Homo sapiens: one gene and its partner. Changing the gene in region 2 together with the main gene of any one other region gives a genetic interaction. Each region holds a gene or a part of one and is shown on either strand. Other genes may lie near its edges.

What was found. A genetic interaction does not mean that the proteins touch.
Region 1: changes in HDAC8 (region 2) and TBL1XR1 together harm fitness less than expected from each alone (positive genetic interaction), as found in Homo sapiens cells (one large-scale study listed by BioGRID).

Annotation. Positions count from the first base shown.
Region 1 is NC_000003.12:177,187,483-177,190,982, forward strand, and holds part of TBL1XR1 (F-box-like/WD repeat-containing protein TBL1XR1), read right to left. Parts: intron 1-3,500. UniProt on the Homo sapiens protein: F-box-like protein involved in the recruitment of the ubiquitin/19S proteasome complex to nuclear receptor-regulated transcription units. Plays an essential role in transcription activation mediated by nuclear receptors.
Region 2 is NC_000023.11:72,570,044-72,574,019, forward strand, and holds the start of HDAC8 (histone deacetylase 8), read right to left. Parts: upstream 2,801-3,976; 5' UTR 2,719-2,800; coding exon 2,608-2,718; intron 2,067-2,607; coding exon 2,014-2,066; intron 1-2,013. UniProt on the Homo sapiens protein: Histone deacetylase that catalyzes the deacetylation of lysine residues on the N-terminal part of the core histones (H2A, H2B, H3 and H4).

The sequences.
Region 1 (3,500 bases), on a different chromosome or scaffold from region 2:
TCAGGTAACATTTCATCTGATCATCTTAATAGACATTTATAGAAGCTAAGTGATTTACTCATGTAACCATGGCTTTACAAAGAATTGGTTTAAAAATACTTGTTTGCTTAATATTAGACCCATGTTAAAATGCTACCCCATTCAAGCAGATGCAAACTAAGAACAAAAAACAAAAGCATCCACTCAAAAACTGAGTCACTGAATGTCTCTTTACAATGTCCCGCTCTCCACTGTGCTGAAAAAGACACAATGAGAAGAAAAGAGAAACACAAAAGGTTATCAGGAAAAAAAGCACTTATTGATTCCACATCCGATCTCAGACAAAATACCGAAGATATCAAATAGACTGACACCTAGTTTATTAAAAAGTTAAAAAAAAATCCACCATTTTAAGGTAATTAAAATTTTTAAACATTTAAAAAGAAAAAAAAAAAAGCTTGAGAGTCCAGAGTACAATTTCCTTTTTTTTTTTTTTTTTTTTTTTTGAGATGGAGTCTCGCTCTATTGCCCAGGCAGGAATACAGTGGCACGATCTCAGCTCATGGCAACCTCCACCTCCCAGGTTCAGGCTAACAGGTAGCTGGGATTACAGGCACATGCCACCACACCCGGCTAATTTCTGTATTTTTAGTAGAGACGGGGTTTTACCATGTTGGTCAGGCTGGTCTCGAACTCCTGACCTCGTGATCCACCCACCTCGGCCTCCCAAAGTGCTGGGATTACAGGCATCAGCCACCGTGCCCGGCCCAGAGAATACAATTTCATATAAAAAAGAATTACTGTCCAGGCACAGTGGCTCACACCTGTAATCCCACCAGCACTTTGGGAGGCCAAGGTGGGCAGATCACCTGAGGTCAGAGGTTCAAACCAGCCTGGCCAACATGGCGAAACTCCATCTCTACTAAAAATACAAAATTAGGTAGGTGTGGTGGCACATGCCTGTAATCCCAGCTACTCAGAAGGCTGAGGCAGGAGAACTGCTTGAACCTGGGAGGTGGAGGGTGCAGTGAGCCAAAATTGCGCCATTGCACTCCAGCCTGGGCAACAAGAGCAAACCTCCGTCAAAAAAAAGAAATTACTCTATTAAGATACCGTAATGACCATCTCTGACCCTTGCAGCCCAGAGTTTTGTTTTTTTAAATTCTACCTCCTGAAACCTTCAATAAAGGGGAAAATAGGTGGCAAACTTCACAGTTTAAATGTTCAACAGGTATTCCTCCTCCCTCATCCCTCAAACCTATTCATTTCACATAAATCTCCTGAATCTGGGTACTCTATGTTTACCAAAATGTATTAACCTTTCAGCATGATCCTTACAGTCCACACTAATTCTGAGTTACAAATCTAAGCTCTCAGAAAGCAGAGCTTTCAATCTAACTCATTTTGTTTGATTCAAAATCATGCTGAAAAGCTTACATTCTATACATAAATATTAAAAATTTTGGGCGGGTGCGGTGGCTCACGCCTGTAATCCCAGCACTTGGGGAGGCCGAGGCGGGTGGATCACGAGGTCAGGGGTTCAAGACCAGCCTGGCCAACATAACGAAACCCTATCTCTACTAAAAATACAAAAAAATTAGCCGGGCATGGTGGCACGTTCCTGTAGTCCCAGCTACTCAGGAGGCTGAGGCAGTAGAATCGCTTGAACCCAGGAGGTGGAGATTGCAGTGAGCCAAGATCATGCCACTGCACTCCAGCTTAGGCAACAGAATGAGTCTTTGTCTCAAAATAAAAATAAGAAATAACAATTTCAGGCCAGGTGTGGTGGCTCACGCCTATAATCCCAGCACTCTGGGAAGCCGAGGTGGGCAGATAACAAGGCCCAGAGGTTCAAGACCAGCCTGGCCAACAAGGTGATATCCCATCTCTACTAAAAATACAAAAATTAGCTGGGCGTGGTGGTACACGCCTGTTAGTCCCAGCAATTTGGGAGGCCAAGGTGGGTGGATCACCTGAAGTCAAGAGTTCAAGACCAGCCTAGCCAACATGGTGAAACCCCATCTCTACTAAAATTACAAAAAAATTAGCCAGGCGTGGTGGCCAGCACCTGTAATCCCAGCTACTTGGGAGGCTAAGGCAGGAGAATCGCTTGAACCCAGGGGGCGGAGGTTGCAGTGAGCGGAGATCACATCCAGCCAGTCTGGGAGACAGAGCAAGACTCCATCTCAAAAAAAAAAAAAAAAGAAGGATGTAACACCAAATTAGTTGCCTTTATAGTCAATTACCCTGGTTGGCTGGAACTAATACAGCACAGTCTTACCATAAAAATTTACTGAAGGGAGATGGTTAAGAGACATTCTTCTGGTAGATAAAACTCACTTACATTGTATAATACATATATCCTATACTGAATGTTAATAAATTAATAGTAATGGCTCAAATGAAACTCCAGTGCAGTCAGAATGCTGTAAAACAGTGAGATCTAAAAACACTATCTTAACTTAGGTACACTACTAAGGAAATAATGAAGAAAAAACCTAACAGATTAAGAAAATAAAGTTCTAGCTGGGCGTGTAAGCGGACACCTGTAATCCCAGCTACTGGGGAGGCTGAAGCAGGAAAATCGCTTGAACCCAGGAGACGGAGGTTTCAGTGAGCCAAGCATGTGCCATTGCACTCCAGCCCGGGCAACAAGAGTGAAACTCCATCTCAAAAAAAAAAAAAAAAAAAAAAAAAAAAAGAGTCCAAAATCTTAAGCATCATTATACCTAACTACCTGACACATATATAACCAGATAAAGTCAACTTACTGTGACACAATTCCTAACTAGACTAGGTTTTCCCCCAGTACTGTGGCTACTATTCCAGAATTAAAAGGGCAAAACCATCCATTTTCTTTTTTTGTGTATGTGACGGAGTTGATGCTCTTGTTGACCAGGCTGGAGTGCAGTGGCGCAATCTCAGTTCACTGCAGCCTCCGCCTCCCGGGTTGAAGCTATTCTCCTGCCTCAGCCTCCTGAGTAGCTAGGATTATAGGCGTGTGCCACCACTCCCAGCTAATTTTTTGTATTTTTAGTAGAGCTAAACATTTTATCATGTTAGCCAGGCTGGTCTCAAACTCCTGACCTCAGGTGATCCCCCTGCCTGGGCCTCCCAAAGTGCAGAGATTACAGGCGTGGGCCACCGTACCCAGTCAAAACCATCCATTTTCATCTAAGAAACTAACAAATTTTTCTTCCTTTGCAACTCTGGCAGCACTAAAATTTAAATGAACAGTTAAATGTGACTATAGCACACCTAAATCTTTAAGGTCTAACTCAAAAAGAAGATGCTGCCACATTACAGTGGAACAGGGCTGTCACTGCTCCCATTTTAACACAGGCCCTCACAATCCATTTTAACATGAAAATGGTATTAAGAACTCTGCCAAATGCTGGAAGGAAAAAGGTCCATCCGTTCAAGAAACATCGTAGTTGGGGCAACAAAACAATAAACAGTTATGGGATTTGTGATCTTCATTAAGTGCAATGGAATCTCAGAGAAGAAATATCCTGAGTCAG
Region 2 (3,976 bases):
ATGAATACGACTATACAGGCTACTACTATCACCAAGGTAGCTGGAAGAAATCCTGTGGTTTGGCCTCAAAAGTGAAATACATAGCCAAGACCCAAGAATTCTTGCTTCTTCTTAAAGAAGACAAATCTATACCACCAGAGGTGAAAAATCTACCCATTAAAATAAAAATTTTGTAATATCTCGGACCGTATTTCCCAGTCCTAAAAGCTCCCTCTTCTAGTACCCTTCCATTTATTTTGGTAAATGTTAAAAAACACTTACTGAAAACCTCCCTATTTAACAGTAAGCAAACTGGACAGTTTTGCTTTGCTTTGATATCTTGTTTGTCATAAAATAATTTTTTGAAATGTTAAATAACTTTAATGGAAGGCATATAGTTACTATGTTAACCAAACCATATGGGTTAAAAAATGGCTTAAAATGGGTGTGGTGACACGTGCCTGTAGTCCCAGCTACTCGGGAGGCTGAGGCAGGAGAATCGCTTGAACCTGGGAGGCGGAGGTTGCAATGAGCCGAGATCGCGCCACTGCACTCCAGCCTGCGCGACAAAGCAAGACTCCATCAAAAAAAAAAAAAAAAGGCTTAAAAATTCCCTTTAAAAGGTACAAAATGATTTTGTTAATAATAAGGATAAAATCTGAAAGCCTATTATTACACTACCTTCTGGGAGATAAATGAAGCATAGCACACTAGTTGGTATGAGCACTCACCTATTTGGCCAGAAATTGTCATAAGTAATCCTATATGTGGCAGGGTTATATTTGCTCTTATAACGACATCAAATACAGAAATGGCAATAAACAGCAAGTTCATGTTTTTGGAAGAAACAGTTAGCTCTCTCTTGAGTTCTGGCGCAGTCTTGGCAGTTTTCTTTGGTCTTTTTTGTTTGTTTGTTTTTTGAGACGGAGTCTCACTCTGTCACCCAGGCTGGGGTGCAGTGGCGCAATCTCGGCTCACTGCAAGCTCCGCCTCTCGGGTTCACACCATTCTCCTGCCTCAGCCTCCCGAGTAGCTGGGACTACAGGCGCCTGCCACCACGCCCGGCTAATTTTTTGTATTTTTAGTAGAGACGGGGTTTCACCGTGTTAGCCAGGATGGTCTTGATCTCCTGAGCTCATGATCCGCCTGCCTCAGCCTCCCAAAGTACTAGGATTACAGGCGTGAGCCACCACGCCCGGCCTTCTTTGGTCTTGATCTGTCTCCAGCCTCACCCATTAAAGTTTGGTGCTGGTGGTGGGTTGTCTAAAAGTCTTAGGTTGAACTCACACCCTCAAATCTGGCTTAGAATGAAACGAAATCAAAAGAAAAATGGAACACCTCCTAGCTGAACACCTTTTTGTATGAGACAGGTTTTAATACCCAAATGTACTCAAAATCTCCACAATGCACTGCACCTACCCCTGGGATACTTAACCAAGCAATCGAGCTGTATTTCTAATGAACCTTAACTGCTTCCTGCACTTTCCACTCCCCTGTCCCAAGTTTTCTTTTCTTTTTCTTTCTTTCTTTCTTTTTTTTTTTTTTTTTTTTTTTTTTTTTTGAGACGGAGTTTCACTCTTGTTGCCCAGGCTGCAGTGCAATGGTGCAATCTCGGCTCACTGCAACCTTCACCTCCGGGGTTCAAGCGATTCTCCTGCCTCAGCCTCCCGAGTAGCTGGGATTACAGGCGCCCGCTACCACGTCCGGCTAATTTTTTTGTATTTTTAGTAGAGACGGGGTTTTGCCATGTTGGGCAGGCTGGTCTCAAATTACTGACCTCAGGCGATCCACCCACCTAGGCCTCCCAAAGTGCTGGGATTACAGGCGTGAGCCATGCTCTCGGCCCCCCAAGTTTTCTTAATTCTTCAAGAGCTTTCTTGGGATTACAGGCAGATTACAAACACTGTGAATACTTTCACAGAAAGCTAAAATAATTTTTTCAAAAGACCATTCTTTTCCTTGCCCCACTGTGAAGCAGGATATTAAGGCTACGAACACCTAGCTTCAGGGCTATGTTCAAGAAAGACAACTTACCTCATCTGCTTATGCAGTGCATATGCTTCAATCAAAGAATGCACCATACTGGCCTAAAAACATCAGCGTAAAAAAAAAAAAAGAAAAGCAGAAATAGTCTCTTTAAAGTTTAATTCAGCAAAATCCCCGTCAATCTCACCATCCTGAACAAAGGAACGGATTAATTTTGTTTCAACTGGCTTCCCTTCTGTTAACAGTTACAATACACTTTAGACAATACAGATACAAAGTATCAAAATCACTAAGGTGAAAGCTACCGGGCCTTAGGCAGGTGATGGAACACCTTCCCCCTGCAGCTTGTTTTCCCACGACTTCAGCGGTCCCCTATGAGTGGAAACTGCGTCCTCTCCCCTCCTCCGTACCCCCTCCCCCACTCCTACCTGTCCATTGGACGTCCCGAAGAGACATGCTGCGCTCTCAGAAACGATATGAGAACACTTCCTTCTGATACAGCTTTAGGTATCTGATACAGCTACTCGAAATTTCTGAAGATTTCCCCCAGCCCAGTGTCCTCTCCGCTTCCTAACGCTCTTTCGTCCACCGCCCCCACCCCCACCCCCAAAGCCCATGGTCTTTCATCCCGACTTCCCTTACCCGTTTGGGGATCTTGGCCAGGGAGTCACACATACTGACATACTCGGGACTATAGATATAAACCGGGACCAGCGACTGCCCACTGTCCGCCGGTTCCTCCGGCTCCTCCATCTTCCGCTTAAAACCGTTCCGCAGCCACCTTCCAGATCTGGCTTTTTTCGGACTCGGCCAGGGTTCCAGTTCCTGCTCCTCTGATCGGCCGCAGCGGTGCTCCCTGGTCAACATTCCCTCCTATTCTTGAGATCGCCGGAGACACTATCACCGCTCCCCATCCTATTGAAGGAATGGATGGGACTTCCCAGACCAGACTCCCCTCATTTAGTGACCACAGTTCAAGGAAAAGGGTTTGGCAGATGTAAAAGTCCAAATAGCTGTCAATTAGGATCGATTGTTTTTATGGCACAAATAAGTAGGGTCAAAACTAACCATCCTTGTTGCCCTACGGGGCCATTTGAGATGAAGTCAGACCAGTTTCACAGCATGCTGGGAGATGTAGTTTCCGGAGGTTTGAGCAACGGAAGAGCCGGGGCTAAACACTAAAATAACCGCGATTTTTAGTTTCAGCGCTAAGACCAAAAAAAAAAAAAAAAAAAAGTAGCCTCAACTCTTTATGAATTGTTTCAATCTGCAAACACATCCATTTCATCCATTTAACCATATAAACACAGATAGAACGTGGCCACCTAGAGCCCCCACCATCCAGCTACATCAGCTGCCTATCCTAAGGATAGGCTTTTTTTTTTTTTTTTTTTTTTTGGTGGGGGCGCTATTTAATGGCACAAATGGTTTGAAAAGTTTACACAGTAAATTCTGTGATGCAATTTTATAGTTCATTTCTTTTCATCATTAACTATCCATGTCCACATGAGAGTTAACAATCTCAATAATTTACTCTGGCAAATCTGATAGTACTTTCCCAAGAGACTGGCTGGTGCAGTGGAAATTGCTTGGTAGATTCCGATCAAGCAATGATGTCAAATGTAACTCCTTGAACATTCATGTGGTAGGAAGGTTGCAAGCAGTGGTGTTTGGAAACTGCAGCTCTTCTCCTCCTACCTCCTCTTGTTTCTGCAGCTAAACATAGATTAGGGAAATATTTTAGGTTTGGTGTGAGGGTCCAGTTTAAGACTATCTGAGGCGGTTTTAGAATTACCATCAGCATTTGGAGGTTCCTGGAGGCCCCTATGATCTGATACAAGCTGGCCAGTGCTCAGGATCTTAATTCTCATGGCAACCTAAACTGACTGACTAACACCACTGGGACAACCTAATATCCTTACTATATTTAAAGTCTGGCTTGCTTTTTAGACTTTAAACATTTATTGAAGATTGTGACATGCACATTGGCCATATTATCTCATTTCATCCT